2 separate regions of the Homo sapiens genome follow, and region 2 is linked to region 1. The links come from fine-mapping of genetic effects on gene expression. A gene starts in region 1. The other region holds a variant in brackets. All regions are shown on one strand. Distances are from middle to middle. Region 1 holds the start of LITATS1 (lncRNA induced by TGF-beta and antagonizes TGF-beta signaling 1). Region 2 has its middle 29 kb from the start of LITATS1.

Region 1 (8,327 bases):
AGGTTTCTCCATTGTATAGTTACTATTCTTCTCTTTCCCTACTCTATTATTTAGAAGCAAGTCCTGAGTCCAGTGTACAGGAAAGGGAAGGGAAAGGAATAATTAAGCTCCACCTCCTAGAGGAGAAACAATCTGCATTCATTATTGGAAATTCTTCTGTAAGGAAGACTTGCCTCTTCTCCCCCAGTAGGTTATTGATTCAACAATTTATTTATATCAGGGCTGGGTATGGTGGCTCATGCCTTTAATCCCAGCACTTTGGGGGACCAAGGTGGAGGACTATTTCCGGCCAGGAGTTCAAGACCAGCTTGGGCAACATAGCGAGATCCCCATCTCTACAAAAAAAATTTTTTTAATTTGCCAGGCGTGGTGGTGCACAACTGTAGTCCTAGCTACTCAGGAGGCTGAAGCAGGAGGATCGTTTAAGCCCAGGAGTTCAAGGTTACAGTGAGCTATGATCACGGCACTGCACTCAAGCCTGGGCGACAGAGCAAGACCCTGGCTCTGAAAACAAAAAAATTATTTATATCAGTATAAATATTTATTTTATACTTTAGGTTATAATTCAATATTATCCTATTATTTATTCCCTTGCTCAGTTGCTCCAGCTTTGGCCATAGGGAGCTCTTCTGGCTCCTGGATCCCTTTGACGCACTCCCATCCTTTTGTGTTTTGAGCGCTTCCTAAATCCCTGGCACCACAGCACACTGCCGGCTCATCCTTTCCCTGTCCCAGCCCTAAAATCAGCCATCTCTCCAAGGAAATAATGTATTTTTAATACAAGTTCTCCAATTATCTTGTCAATAGTCCAAATATATTGCACCGCATTTGAATGCATGATTTAAAAAAAAAAGAGTTAATTTGTTCAGTTACCGTTTAAAACATACATTGATTTTTGTAGCCCTGCTGTGACATGTCTTTTTGAAATATACCAGGAGTCTGGCCGGGAGCAGTGGCTCATGCCTGTAATCCCAGCACTTTGGGAGGCCAAGGCGGGCGGATCACGAGGTCAAGAGATCGAGACCATCCTGGCTAACACGGTGAAACCCCGTTTCTACTAAAAACACAAAAAAATTATCCAGGTGTGTTGGCAGGCACCTGTAGTCCCAGCTACTGGTAGTCCCAGCTACTCGGGAGGCTGAGGCAGGAGAATGGCATGAACCTGGGAGGCGGAGCTTGCAGTGAGCTGAGATCGCGCCACTGCACTCCAGCCTGGGCGACAGAGCCAGACTCCATCTCGAAAATAAAAAATAAAAAGAAATATACCAGGAGTCTCAAACATGGGAGGGATCTGGTCCTTTCTTCACTTCTAGGAGGCCTTGTTGAATTTAAACATCACCTCAGCAGCCACTCCCTTAAGGCTTGAGGGCAGCCTGCCCAGCCTTTCTACAGAGGTAGCCCAGTTCCCGGGTCCTCCCCAGGCTGAGCTGCCCAGTGAAGCAACTGAAAGCCAAGGTCATTCCTGGGACCTTTCCCTCTCCAACCTCATCTCCCAACCCCCCACCACCCTCAGGCAGTGACCAGTCCACAAGCTTTGCAGACCCCACCTACGCTGGCTGGGCACAGGCAGATAGATGGTGGGAGGCCAGGCAGGCTCCAAGAAGGAAATTAGCCAGCCCAGCTGCCAAGACAGGCATACGAGAGGCAGAGGGGTTTGTGTGGGCTCGGCTTCAGAGAACTCCTGGGGATTAGGGCCAAAGTTTGCAAAATCCAGCTGTAAACGGAGCAGGGGTTCCCCAAAGAAGCCGTGGGTTCTGTAGAGGAGAGTCGGCTTCTTGGGAAGTAGCATGAGCCGGAAGACAGCGAGACTGTGGCTCTCTCTGGGAGGGCAGGGAGCAGCATGACTCATCGCCTAGTCCTGCTGGCTCCTACTGGCACAGGGCTGGGCAGCAGAGGGTCTGGGAGCAGGAGCAGAGTCTGGTCTTGTTGCAGCTCCAGAGGAGGTCTCAGGCTGGCAAAGACAATCTAACACGTTGGGACATAGGCAGGGTGTTGTGGGGACACTTAGGAGGGTACAACCAGCATCAAAGGAGTCTTGGCTGGCCTCACAGAGGAGGTGACATCATCCAAAAGATGAATGGAACTGGCTAGGAAGCAGCTGGGTGGGAGAGAGGGAAGGGCACTCCAAGCCAAGGAAGAAGCAGAGCAGAGGCCCGAAAGTGTCTGCAAGGCGCTAGCTGGTGCCTGCCACCCAGTGAGCACTCTATAAATGGGAGGCATTATCTCTATGATTGATTAGTATTGTCATTATCATTATTAACCTGGACACATCACTTAATGTTTTTACTATCTTAAAGGTAGTTGCTATAGCGAATAAATGCTTAACATAACTGAGCTCTTCTCATCTGTAAAAGGGACTGTTGTGAGGTTAGGGGTGCCGCCGGCACCGCACTCAGCTGGAGTGACAGCAAGCATGTGAGGTGCCCAGCATGGGATGTGAGCTGGCATGCAGCAGGGGGCCTTGTGTTTCCTCTCTCCTTGGGTTGCCAAGCCCCTGGAGCTGCTGTGCCTGGGGAGCAGAGAAGGGGACACTTTGGGGTCTTCAAAGATGACCAGGCAACAAAGCAGGAACACCGCTAGGTAAGAGCAAGCAAGCCCAGAGGAACAGCCTCAGGGTCCAGATAGAGACGTACACGCCTGCCTCCCTGGGGTCTTTGGTGGCCTCCCGAACAAGCAGGTGTGGATGGGGAGATGGACTGCCTTGGAGAGAGCTACATGAGTTCCAGCTCCACCAGCCCCCAGAGCCTGAGCAGGTGACTTCACCTTTCTGAATCTCTGAACATCCATTTCCTCCACTGTACAATTTCATTAAGATACATACAAGAATATCCAAAGCACAGTCTTTGTAATAGAAAAAAAATCCTAGAAACAACATCCAACAGCAGGTGACTGAATAAGTAACCAGTGGTATATTCATAAAATGGGACACTATTCAGTAGTAAAATAAATTACAGGTATGCAGGCAATCAAAATGGATTTTTAAAAATATAATGCTGTATGAAAAAGGAAGTCACATAATTATGGAATGACTCCGTTTACACAAAGTAAAAAATAGCAAAACTATACAATATCCCACTTAGGGATGCATACAGAGGTGGTAAAACTACAAGAAAAAGCAAGAGAATGACTAGCACAATTAAAGTTCAGGAAACTAGTTCTTCAGGATGTGGGCAGGAGGCTGTGATGGGGGCACCCAGAGGGCCTCAAGGTACTGGCACTGGTCTATTTTTTAAGTTAGGTGATGGATACATGGCTTTTTTATTATTACTATTATTCTTTAAGCTGTACATGTACAGTTGTGTCTATGGTGTCTTTTACAATAAACAAGTATTTATTATAACACTAGCACTTATAGGATACATGCCTATGATGAGGTAGAGAGAATGTAACAAAGGACTGGCACATAGTAAGCACTGGTGGCATGTGGCTCTGTCCTCCAGCGTGTGGGCTCTGTGTTTTCTCTCTCTCTCTCTCACTCACACACACGCACGCACACACACACACACACATAGGAAGCCAGGCTCCCCTCTGCCCTCAGTCACTCGTGGTTCACAAAAATGGCAAATAATAGGAGCACTAGAATAGGAGCTCTCCATCCTGGTTCGAGTCTTTCCAGCTGGGGCAGTTTAGCCTTTGCAGAATTTCTCAAGGGTAACATCAGCATAATGACCTCTGTCTGTAAGCCCGTGAGTGTAAGCCTGTAAAGTGCTGTGCTCATGCGAGGGATCAGGTCTGACCTGGGAAACTAAAAGCATCTTCATGGAGCAAGGGTGCTCCTCCAGTGGGGGCGCTCAGTGAGTTCTGCGGTATGGGTGACAGTATTCTTGTGTGGACAGTATTCATGTGGTGATTGGGGTAAATGGCCCTCTTTTGCCTGGTTTTCTGCCTCGGTCATTGTGCATCTGCTGACTGAACCTGCCTTTTGGTCCTAGTAAAGTACAGATTTCAGGAAAAGTGTACCTGGCCCCGGGGGTGGCCAACCTCTGTGTGACGGCTTTAAGCACAGTGTGTCTTGAGGGGGCCTGACTCCATCTGAAAAGTGCCTGTCTGGATGTACCTGTCTATAACCATGGACCTGCCTCCAAGGTGCGTGGACCAACCTCCGCGTACCTGATTCACTCGATGCGCACCTGGCCGTACGTAGCTTCATCAGGCAGGGTGTACCTGTCAAGTTCTTAGGTCCGAGTGTTCGCGGCTTTACCTGTCCTGGTACCGCCGTCCGCACCTCGGTCAGTGCGTCCCCGGCAGGTGCGTGTACCTGATTCAGTCCGTGCTTATCTTGCGCATACGGGCCGTTCAGTGTCCCGCTCGGAGCTCGTCGCCGCCGCAGCCTTGAGGCTCCGACCCCCGCTTGGGCCCCGTCCGGCGCGCAGCGGCCGCGGGGGCGGGGCCGCGACGCGAGGAGCGGAGCAGGAAGGGGCGAGGCAGCCCCGCCCCCGGGGCGGTCTCCCGGGACGGCCCCGCCCCTTGCCCGCTTCCGCGTCAGTGCCTCACCACCACCTGCCCGCGCGCCGCCCCATATAAAGGCGCCGCCGTCCTTACCCCCAGGACTCGGCCCCATGGAGACGCCGCCGGCCGCCGCTGGCGCATGGCGGGGTGAGGCGCGGCGGGGAGGGTGCGGGCCTCGGCGGGGAAGCGGCAGGGAGCGCTCCGGCGGGGTCCGAGCCGAGCCGAGGGGAGGGGACGGGAGGGGACGGGAGGGGTGGAGAGGGGAGGGGACGGAAGGGTCGGGGTCCTGTTCCCCGGCCCGCCGGGCCTCAGGACCCCTCCAACTTTGCCCAAGTTGGGAGAGCCGGGGAAGAGCACCAGGTTCCTGATCGGGATCGCGGGCCGAGCAAGCGCGGGTCTCGGGCCGGGACAGCCTCGGCGTCACCAGCTCCCGGCAGCCAACCAAAGTTTTCCAGCAACTTTTCTCCCCACGGGTCACCCCAGAAACTTGCCCTCCCCGGCTCCGGGAGTCCGGCCATGGGCCTTGCGCTGCCTGGGCCTGAGCTCTGAGTGCCGGACGGGTGGGCGAAAGTGGTGGCCTCAGTGGGGAAGCCTTGGGCCCCGCAACGCACTTCCAGCCCCAGGATTCCATCTGAGAGCCCCGTCCCTGCCTTCTGGGTCCCCTGGGTTGGCGTGGGGGTTCGAGGCTTTACAGCTGGGGTAGTTCCAGTCTTAGTTCAGACTAAGTTCCGATCTTCGAGCCACCAGCTAACAGCTGGATGACCTTGAGCACGTTTTTAATGTCTGTGCCTCAGTTTCTCCCTTTATAGAATGGGAATGGGAATGCCTAGCTGGGAGAGCTTTTGAGAGGACAACCTGAACTAATAACACGATGCAGTGTGTAGTGCCACCAATCCCTCATCCTGCTGGATGTGGTTTTGGGAGGGAGGTTAGGAGAGAGCGCTATTCACCGTCCCTAACCCTGTTGGTTGTTCAGTAGGAGCTGTGGCGCGGGGCCTTCCAGGAGTCTGAGCTATGAGTGGCCCCTGTGGAGAGAAGCCTGTCCTGGAAGCCAGCCCCACCATGAGTCTGTGGGAATTTGAGGACAGCCACAGCCGTCAGGGCACCCCAAGGCCGGGTCAAGAGCTGGCCGCTGAGGAGGCCTCGGCCCTGGAACTGCAGATGAAGGTGGACTTCTTCCGGAAGCTGGGCTATTCATCCACGGAGATCCACAGCGTCCTGCAGAAGCTGGGCGTCCAGGCAGACACCAACACGGTGCTGGGTGAGCTGGTGAAACACGGGACAGCCACCGAGCGGGAGCGCCAGACCTCACCGGACCCCTGCCCTCAGCTCCCTCTAGTCCCGCGGGGTGGTGGCACCCCTAAGGCTCCCAACCTGGAGCCTCCACTCCCAGAAGAGGAAAAGGAGGGCAGCGACCTGAGACCAGTGGTCATCGATGGGAGCAACGTGGCCATGAGGTAAGTGTCACTTCTGTGGCCAGGACACATGAGGTTCGCATCTCTCCTGTGGCCAGGACACATGGAAGGATGACTGTCTCTGCAGCTCTGGTGGGCTGGAAGAAGTGACTTCCTTCTTAGGGACTGGTCTAGAGGGAGGGAAAGCCTTTTATGAGGCTAGGGTCGCGCTACTGGTAAGTGACAGAGGCAGGGTTCCAGCCCAGGTCCCTCTGTCCGCAGAGCTTACCTTATGCTGTGGGTCCCTCCCTGAGGCCAGCACTGTGTCTCCACTCCTCTCCTGTAATGTGAGGCAGGGCTGTAAAGGGGACCAGCCCGTGGGCAGCTGCTCACTCACCCCTCGGAACCTGATCTCAGGTGGGTGTTGTGAGGAGGGAGTGTGCGGATCCCGGAGAGGAGCAAGCGTTCAGGAACCATAGTAGTGGTAGTAGGCAGTGGTAGTAGCAGTTGTTGTTGTTATTTCAGGGGCTGGGCTTCTGAGGCCTTCTTGTCTCAGACCTGGGCTCCCACGAAAACAGGTCCAGTGACTGTGTCCAAGAGTGACCTCAAGGCTGGGTCCAGCTTTACATGGGTTGTGGGCAGGTGGCCTGATGCTCTGGCCTCAGGCGAGCTGCAACTTGGATCCCTACTGACTCAGCTGAAGCAGCCTGGGCTGGACCAGTCTCTGGAGGTTCCCCGGGGCCAGAGCCAGGACTCAGCCCCCAGTGACTCCCACCCCCATCCCCCAGCACAGGAATGGGGTGGGGAGGTAGGGGCAGAGAGGGAAGCCAGGGCTGCTGCTGACCTTGGGAAACCCAGACTTCTCCCGTCAATCCAGGCTCCACCCTCTGGCCCCACTTTTTTCCCAGTTCCCTCCAAGGCAGGCTGATGAGTCAGTGCTGGGTGGATGGCTCACAGGGAAAAGTTCCTGTTGGCATGGACGGGGAGACCCCAGACACAGGGTTGAGAAGGGATGATTTTCTGGCTGCCCTGAGGGAGCTCCTAGGTGGGCTGCCCAAGGCTGGCATGACATCAGCCTCTGCCCTCCCTAATTTGTGGCCCCTGTGGGACAAGTTCACTGTCCAGCTGGCCCTGGCCCAGCTCAGCAGGCATGCAGCTGAGTGCTCTTCCCTCCTTCTGTCACCTTCAGGCCAGTCTTCCTCTCTCTGACTTGGGCTGAGCCTGGATGGGAGGCTGAGAAAATCCAGTTTCCATGCCAAGAGGCAGCAGGTCACAGCCCATGCTTCGAGATTAGAAGGGGTCCCTCTCAGTGTCCAGCCTCATGTAGCTGGGCTAGGAGCTAGGTTGGATCTGTGTGACTCCTTCCTCTGGAGGTATGGGCCAGGAGCGGCTGAGCCCTGGGAGCAGCCATATGCAGTATGTGTTTGTATCCAGAAGGAGGAGGGACATGGGAGGAGGGGCTGTGATGAGGGGTGCTCAGAGGAGCCTGCTCCTGAGAAGCAGAGCCACGCACCCACCTCGGGGGTTTCTGAGCTGGGGTAGTGGCAGGAGGGGAATTCCAGCCTCAAACTTCCTGTCTCAGCTGCTACTCGGTTCCTGCCCGGCCACCCCCCCTCCCCAGGGGCAGGCGGGCTAGCCCCCCCATCATATGCAAATCATGGGGAAATTCACCTCTGTTTCCTTCTAAGGGAATTTTTTTCCACTCGCCAGGCCCAGCCCAGGCATATCTTTTCACCTGGGGAGGCTGGCCCAGCCCTGCCTTCTGTCCTGGGGCAGGAGCAGCCTAGCTGGAGTCTTCTACACACACATCCTATCAGTGTCTGCTTAGCCCGGCTGGGGGACCCTGACCTTACAGGCAAAGAGAACTGGAATGGGGGCAGGGATGTCTGGTTTTCCTGTGCCAGCAGCGCTTCCTCCAGTGCAGTGAAAGAGACTAAAGCTAGCTGTAGGGGGGCACTCCAGGCCTCATGTGCTCTACCAGGAGGAGGGCTCTGATAGCGCCCACTGATCAGTTTTTCCATCTGCTGAGGGAATATTCAGGTGCTAGGGCTGCTGAGAACCGACTTGTCCCAGCCAAGATTTTCAGTGCCCACAGGCAGTGCACTGCCCTGAGAGCCCTGGCATCCCATTAGTTCCCAGTGCTCCAAGATACTAGCCTAGGATCATGTGCCCGGAGGGAGGCAGGTGGGCGGATACATGCGCACACTGCATACCTGAGACAAGGAGCCAGGCCTGGGATGACCCAGCTGCCATGGTTTTGAGAGGCAGGCCAGAAGGCCCAAGGAAGGGGGGTGATGTGATGGGGGAAGCACTGGGCATTGTGAAGACACAGACCAGGGACCTGACCTATTGTGGCAGGTCAGGGAAGGCTTCTCAGAGGCAGTGACATCTCACAAGGGTTCTGAAGGAAGAGCAGGAGTTTGCCAGCAGCATTGTTTCTCCCGTTCGCCACCTGTCTCTCATAACACACTTTGTTCAAACTCA
Region 2 (8,327 bases), 29 kb before region 1:
GTGGTGGTGCACAACTGTAGTCTCAGGTATTCAGGAGGCTGAGGTGGGAGGATCACTTGAGCCCAGGAGTTCAAGGCTGCTGCAGCCCAGGCAACAGAGCGAGACTCTGTCTAAATAAATAAATAAAATAATATTGAAACGATCGATTTTGTTTTGTATATTTTAACACAATTTTAAATTTTTAATTTTAAAAAAAAGCACTAGTCTGGGCAACATAGTGAAACCCCATCTCTAATAAAAATAGAAAAATGTGTGGTGGTGCCTTCCTATAGTCCCATCTACTGAGGGGGCTGAGGTGGGAGGATCACCTGCGCCCAGGAGATCGAGGCTGCAGTGAGCCGTGATCATGCCTCTGCACTCCAGCCTGGGTGACAGGGTGAGACCCTGTCTCAAAAAGTAAATAGATAAATAAATAAATACAAATAAAAGTTTTAAAAGAAAAAAAAACCCTCCAGAAAACGAAAAGCTTGATGCGACTCTGAAGTCTAAGGAGAGGTGCTTCGAAGCCCGGCATAGCGGTGGGTACAGGCCATCTCCTCACCCCCACAAGTTGTCCCCAGGCCACGGGTACCACGTGACGCTGCTTCTCTGTGCCCCACCTCACCATGTTGGGATCCAAGTGTGGCTCATATTTCTTCTCAGAGTCCATTTAAAATGACTTTGAACCCCCAAAACCCAAACCAAACATGGTCTATTTCTCCATGAGATTCTAAAACTGGCAAAAATGTGGTTTAATTCCTCTCCACGCCCCAAGCATTGGCCAACAAGCCTGTCTAGAGTAACGAGAATGTTCGACATTCTATTTGACTAGTCTATTTGACTATTGCTTAGGGCCCAGGCTCTGTAAAATTAGATGTTTACTTGTAGAAAACTGGTAAGGGGCAAGTGATTTCCATCCACTAGAGAAAATAATCCCAAAAGGTTATGGTTTTAATGTCCTATAGGCTATCAACCAATTTCATATCTAATTTAGTATCTTATTCCATCATCATTTTTCATGCGAGTTTCTCATATTCTTCTTTGAACCACCTTGTTTAAAGATTCTCTCATTGAGCTAAATAATATTTTGATGGTGCTCACTGTGTATTGCATGAGAATTATGGTTTTAATATTTTGAGAATTATACTTTGGCATCTGGGGGATCCAGACAGGTGCTTGTATGTTCCACACACAGTCCTGGGGCCACTTCTCAACTCACTGTCTCACCGCTCCTTCTCCTGCCGGCTTCTCTTGCATCCCCTCCGCTCTCCCTCTCTCTGTCTCTCTCTCTCTCTCTCCCTCCACTCTCCCTCTCTCTGTCTCTCTCTCTCCCTCCACTCTCTCTCTCTCTGTCTCTCTCTCTCCCTCCACTCTCCGTCTCTCTCTCTCCCTCCACTCTCCCTCTCTCTGTCTCTCTCTCTCCCTCCACTCTCCCTCTCTCTCTCTCTCTCCCTCCACTCTCCCTCTCTCTGTCTCTGTGTGTGTGTGTCTCTCCCTGTCTGTCAGTCTTTCTCTCTCTCCCTATCTCTCTCTCTTTCTCTGTGTCTGTCTCTGTCTGTCTCTCTCTGTCTCTCCCTCTCTCTGTGTTTCTATTTCTGTCTGTCTCTTTCTCTGTCTCTCTCTGTCTCTCTCTCTCTTTCTCCGTGTCTGTCTGTCTCTCTGTGTTTGTCGGTGTCTCTGTCTCTGTGTCTCTCTGTGTCTGTCTCTGTCTTTTTCTGTCTCTCTCTGTCTCTGTGTGTGTCTGTCTGTCTCTGTGTGTGTGTGTGTGTCTGTCTGTCTCTCTGTCTCTCTGTGTGTGTGTCTCTCTCTGCCTGTCTCTTTCTGTCTGCCTCTTTTTCTCTCTCTGTCTCTTTCTCTGTCTCTGTGTGTGTATGTATGTCTGTCTCTGTTTCTGTGTGTCTGTCTGTCTGTCTGTCTGTCTCTCTCTCTGTCTCCCTGCTCCCCCACCCCCACCACTGTCTTTCCTCCTTCTGTCTTCATTTGCTGCAGTCAGGGTTCCTACACGGCTACACTGACAGCTACACAGTGTTCCCTTGGGACCCTGGACTGTACACCCATTCTCAGGGTCCCTATTGTATGGGAGAGCACAGCCACCAATGAAAGCTTCCTCAGGCCTCCCCACACCTGAAAATCCCTGTTCTTCTCTGCTCCCACCCAGGCCATAAAACCAGGTCACATCCATAGCAAACTCTGCTTGAAACGCAGTCATTATGAAACAGAATATTTAACATCTCAGTTTGCATTCCACCACTTACAGTTCTTCCAGGGCTCTTCCCAGACAAGCAGGTGGTGTTTGCCTTATTCCTATAAAGGACCTGTCCCAGTGATTTTATTAAAATGAGAGGAGAAGAGGTTGGGTACCGTGGCTCATGCCTGTAATTTCAGCACCTTGGGAGGCCAAGGTGGGAAGATCCCATGAGACCAGGAGTTTGAGATCAGCCTGGGCAATATGGTGAGACCACCATCTCTACAAAACTAAATAAATAAATTAGTCAGGTGTAGTGGGTCATGCCTGTAGTCCCAGCTAGTTGGGAGGGCAAGGTGGAAGGATCATTTGAACCCAGAAGCTTGAGGCTGCAGAGAGCTATGATCTCACCACTGCATTCCATGCTGGGTGACAGAGCAAGGCTGTCTCAAAACAAAAACAAAAACAGAAAACTTAAAAATGAAATAAAATAAGGGGTGTGCTTCAAGTTCACATGTGTCTACACCCCTAAAATTAACATGATTTCTAGAAAACAACTATCCCCAACTGAGCTTCATTAGGTCGGAAAAAAAAAAAAGACCCTCTTATTCAGATAACCTGCTACAATATTTTAAAACTGATTATTGCCATTATAGAAAAAAGCTGGCTGGGGCACAGTGGCTCACGCCTGTAATCCCAGCGCTTTGGGAGGCCAAGACGGGTGGATCATGAGGTCAGGAGATCGAGACCAGCCTGACCAGCATGGTGAAACCCCATCTCTACTAAAAATACAAAAATTAGCCAGGCATGGTGGTGCGCACCTGTAATCCCAGCTACTCAGGAGGCTGAGGCAGGAGAATCGCTTGAACCCAGGAGGCAGAGGTTGCAGTGAGCCGAGATCGTGCCATTGCAAAAAAAAAAGAAGAAGAAGAAAGCTTTAAATTTTTATTATTTTGTATCTGACATCTTACTAAACTTTTTTTTTTAAGAGACAGGGTCTCTTCCTGCAGTGTAAAAAAAAAATTAATTAAAAAAAAAATAGAGACAGTCTTGCTCTGTGACCCAGGCTGGTCTCCAACTCCTGGCCTCAAGTGATCCTCCCACCTCAACCTCCTGAATAATATGCACCACCATGCCCAGCTAACTTCTTTTCATTTTTATAGAGATGGGGTCTCACCGTGTTGCCCAGGCTGGCCTCTAACTCCTGGCCTCAAATGATCCTCTCACCTGGGCCTCCCAAAGTGCTGGGATTACAGGCATGAGCCACCAGGCCTGGCCTAAACTTTTCATTTGCTATAATTAATTGTTTTTAGTTACTTTCATTGAGTTTTCTAGTTATAAAATTGTGTCTCTGGCACATGATGACAGTTTTCCCATAAATTTTGAAATTGTGTTTTTTGTCTTATCACATCAGCTGTGATGTGTGTTCTTTGCTGTGATTAAATGTGTTAAGCTTTTGAGCGGCTATAGGGGAAGAAGATGTATTGGCAAGGAAAGAGGCTAGTGACTAAGTAGCTAAAAAAAAAAAAAAAACTATGGTAGTAGTTTGAGTGTGGATTGATGGGACAAGGCCTGGCCCAGGATCATGGCTGCAAAGGAAGAACTACAGAGAAGAGAAATTCTAGATGATGAATCAGCAATGAGGGCAGGAAATTGAACACAACTCCAGGTTGGCACATCTGAAACCCAGTGGTCTACCTGAGCAACCAGGAATAGTAGGCATCCTGGTGGGCTCCCAGCACCCATTTCACCTGCCTCTGGTACCACAGTGATTCTTTCAGTGATGGGCACTTTATGCAGAACTAAGGCCTGGCATTCCCCCCGCTCCTGACCCAAGTTAGACCCATCAGAAGTGCAGCTCAGGAATTGTGCTGAATTTTTGGCCAAGGAGAAGCCTCTCTCTCTCTCCCAGGATTTAGAGGGAAAAGCCTAGGAGAAGCAAGCCTGAGCCTGAGTAACAAACTCTGGATCAAATCCCCTTTGAAGTTCGTCTTACCTATTGATATGGTTTGGCCGTGTCCCCACCCAAAA[CT/C]TTTTTTTTTTTTTTTTTTTTTTGAGACAGAGTTTCCCTCTTATTGTCCAGGCTGGAGTGCAATGGCATAATCTCAGCTCACTACAACCTCTGCCTCCCTGGTTCAGGTGATTCTCCTGCCTCAGCCCCCCAAGTAGCTGGGATTACAGGCATACGCCACCACACCTGGCTAATTTTTGTATTTTTAATAGAGGTGGCATTTCACCATGGTGGCCAGGCTGGTCTTGAACTCCTGACCTCAAGTGATCCACCCACCTCAGCCTCCCAAAGTGCTGGGATTACAGGCGTGAGCTACCACGCCCGGCTCTTCTTTTTTTTTTTTTTTTTTGAGACAGAGTGTCACTCTGTCACCCAGGCTGGAGTGCAAAGGCATGATCTCAGCTCACTGCAACCTCTGCCTCCCAGGTTCACACAATTATCCCGCCTCAGCCTCCCGAGTAGCTGGGACTACAGGCATGTGCCACCACACCTGGCTAATTTTTTTGTATTTTTAGTAGAGACGGGGTTTCACTATGTTGGCCAGGCTGGTCTCGAATTCCTGACCTCGTAATTCACCCGCCTCAGCCTCCCAAAGTGCTGGGATTACAGGCGTGAGCCACCGCGCCCCGCCTCCAAAATTCGTTTCTAATTGTAATCCCTGTGTGTCAATTACGAACTGGTGGGAGGTGATTGGATTACAGGGGTGGTTTCCCCCATGCTGTTCTCATGATAGTGAGGGAGTTCTCACCAGATCTGATGGTTTAAAAGTGGCAGTTTCCCCTGCTCATTCTCTCTCTCACTCTGTCTCCCACTCTCCCACTCTCCCAGTCTCCCCATCTCTCTCCCTCTCTCCCCCTTGATCCCTCCCACTCTCTCTCCCTCTGCCTCTCCTTCTCTTTACCTCCCTGTCTCTCTCCCTCTCTCTCTCCCTCCCCTCTTCCCTCTCTCCTCTCTCTCTCTCCTTCCCCCTCCTGCCATCTTGTGAAAAGGGTACTTGCTTCTCCTTCACCTTCCGCCATGATTGTAAGTCTCCTGAGGCCTCCCCAGCCATGCAGAACTGTAAGTCAATTAAACCTCTTTTGTTTATAAATTACCCAGTCTCAGGTAGTATCTTTACAGCAGTGTGAAAAAAGACTAATACACCCCCAGACTTCCAAATCACACGGACCACACATTCCTTTTACTGGTTAATCCAAGTTGCAGTGGATCTCCTGTTCCTTTCCCTGTAAGGAGTCCCAACTGATACACTGGGATTGGCAATATTTTTAACAGATACTATAATTCTCTTACAATGTATTCATCTGAAAAGAGGTGTGAAGGAGAAAAGTAATTAGAATTCTCAGTTTATAAACATTTCCTAAAATGTGAATTCAAGAGAAAAATTAGCAGATATTTTAATTGTCTGTTCTATCTCCACATTCTCACACTTAATCTACCTACTCTCTAAATGTATTAATTAACATTTTCATAAACACTCTTCCAGCTTACAACGCAACTTCACACATCTCGACTCACTTGGTTCCCATAACAAACAGGAGAGATGGGCGGTAACAGTGAGCCCTCATTTTGTGCAGTATGCTAGTTTGTAAGACCCTTTCTCTTACGTGATTTCATGTGATACTCGAATGTCAAGCTCTTGCAAGTTCTGGACTCCAGAAAAACTGATGTAGTTGTTCTCTTGGCCCACAGAGAACTGTTTTGAATTTCTGTGTCTTCACTGGTATCACTCGGTCAATACTGTTCTTCCTGACCTTGTTCACCAGGTGAATTCCCTATTCGTACTTAAAAGCCCATTTCAGACAGGGCACAACTGTGTCTCTTTCCCCAGGGAGGTGTGGGCAGGCAGTGAGGTCTTCAAGAAGTGTTTTGCCTTTGCCAGATGTCAAGGTCAGCCAGCCAGCTGTACAGATAAATGGTCGGGGGGGAAGGGGGGCTTTGGCCAACTTTTTGTGGTCTGGAATAAACAAAATCCATCATCAAACGAAAAACACCAGCTACTCCACCAGCCCCCTGGCCACAAGAACCTACTTCAAGCTTAGCCAGATTCACTCTTTGTTGTATGAAGGGAGAAGGGTCAGTGCCAGCCTTGGCCTTCGGCCATCCATATTAGTTTTGTGCTACTGGCCCTTGGGCCAACCCAGACAGTCTGTAGGCCTTCAAACAGGCCTCAAAGAGAGGAACTCAGACAGGTTCTCAGATTGCTCTCAGAGAGACCATCACCTGGGTTGTCTGACACACCTTGGATGGACTTTGACAGGAATGGATCGGCACAGACCTGAATTAGGAAGCCCTTCTTCCTCTGACCATAGATGTTCCCTCAAAGACACCCTCCTGAGTGACACACACCCCGAGGGAGTCGAAGCAGAGCAGGAGTTCCATTAGTACTGGCACCCACTGGCCATGCCCCTGCTGGAGGTCAGCCCGGGGCCCACAGTCTGCACGACTCTGGGAGTGTATTTTCAGGTCTGAAGGCCTGACTGGGGAGGACTAAGGATGCTGGCGGTGGCCATGGCAACCAGCTCAATCTCCTGACATTGGGCAGGTGATGCCCTTGGCCTCCTCCATCTTTTTGCCACTCTGGGGGTTCCTGTAACCAGAGTGGTCCTTCCCATAGAATGAAAGGTCAGAGGACAGAAAGGGTGGGGAGAACGCTGCCCCACTGGGGGACAGAAAGGGCCAGTGTGGGAAGGAAAGAGATGGAGGGAACAAAAGAGGTGGCCTGAGCCCTTTGCCCCGAAGCTGGGAGGCCTGTATTCCTGGGAGGCTCCTGGGGCTGGCGGGAGTCCTAGGGGGCTGTGGCACCATATCCCTCCCTATATTTATGGGATCTAGTTGTCACTGCCAGTCTGAAATCTCCTTCCTATATCCTTAGCACAGTTGGGTCTATATTGGGGGGCTGCTGATGTTGCCACAACTGAACCCCTCCACTTTCCCAACCTGCTCCTCCTCCAGGCTCTCCAGCTCAGAGAAAGGCCCCACCATCATCCCTGCCTTCCCTCCCCACCCCCAGCAGCCACAGTTCACCTTAACCAACCAGCCTGAAGTACTCAGCTCAGCCTGCAGGGATGCCAGCACACCTGGCGGGACTCTCCTTTCCCTCCCACCAGCCTCCAGAGTCAGTGTCCCTGAAGCCACCTGGAATCACATCACCTTGCTCTGAGCCTGCAGCAAGTCCCCATTGCCCTGAGATGAAGTCAAAGCAACCTGCCACTCTTCACAAGCCAGCCCCGACTGGTCTCTCCAGACTCATCTTCTTACCCCTACTTCCTTCCAGGCCAGATTCAGCCACCTCAATTTCTCAGCTCCCTCCCCACCCCGCCCTTGCCCGGACTGCCTCTTCTCCAGCCCTGTTCACTCTGCCCTTGCCAGTTCCACAGAGCCATTCTCTCCCTGCAGCGCCACCCAGGCATGCCCCTGCTCCTCAGATCTCCTGTGGTATCTTCACCATTTCTACCCCAAACACACCCTATGCCGGGTGACACCCACCCTGAGGGAGTCACAGCAGAGCAGGATTTCCATTAGTATTGTTTGCCGGAATGAAGTCATTCATCCAGGTATCCAGCATCTATGCAGCACTTGCCACACTCCTGGTGCGGTCTGGGCCCTGGGGCATAGCCATGATGAAGATGAGGCCCTCGTGAGTAGGACTCAGATTGCGTCAGAGGATAACTATCCGAATGAATGCTGGCCCTGGCAGAGGCCTTAGCTACTTCCTAATGCTTCTCCAGACAACAGTGTCCAGGACCCCAGGGCTCCAAGGCAGCCTCCCCCGCCCCTCCACATTCTCAGCCCCCACTATCGCCTGCCATCTGAATGTGCAAGGTAGATGTGCACACCAACCCCTGGGCATGGGTCCTGGGGGTAGAGCTGGGTGGGGAGCTGAGGCTGGCATCCCTGTATGTGCTAGTGCCCGACCTGGGTGCACACAGCTGCCAGGGAGTGGGGGGAGCCTCCACAACTGCCTCACCCGCGCACCTCCCCAGCCTCTGCTGGAACTGCTCCTGGCTCCTGGCGCACCGCGCTCCTGTTGTTTAGTTTTTCTGAACACCGAGTCTCAACCCCATGTTAATTGGTTTTACTCCACTCTTTTGTGCCACCCATTAAATGAGGAAATGCCACCCATAAAATTTTAATTTTAAAAGCCAACTTGTT

What was found.
Region 2: its variant is fine-mapped to the expression of LITATS1 in CD8 T cells (CEDAR, PIP 0.94).

Annotation. Positions count from the first base shown.
Region 1 is chr1:37,470,034-37,478,360 of GRCh38, forward strand. It overlaps LITATS1 (lncRNA induced by TGF-beta and antagonizes TGF-beta signaling 1), which reads right to left and starts at 4,410. Exons shown (of 3, transcript NR_038842.1): 1 at 4,111-4,410. ZC3H12A (zinc finger CCCH-type containing 12A) reads left to right here and starts at 4,547. Exons shown (of 6, transcript NM_025079.3): 1 at 4,547-4,596; 2 at 5,426-5,906. The coding sequence starts at 5,464. RefSeq lists silencers at 3,722-3,821, 4,282-4,741 and enhancers at 5,392-5,491, 7,202-7,501.
Region 2 is chr1:37,441,106-37,449,432 of GRCh38, forward strand. No RefSeq gene overlaps it. Among named protein-coding and RNA genes, the nearest start is that of LITATS1, 29 kb to the right of the region's middle. The variant CT/C (reference allele first, on the strand shown) is at 4,196.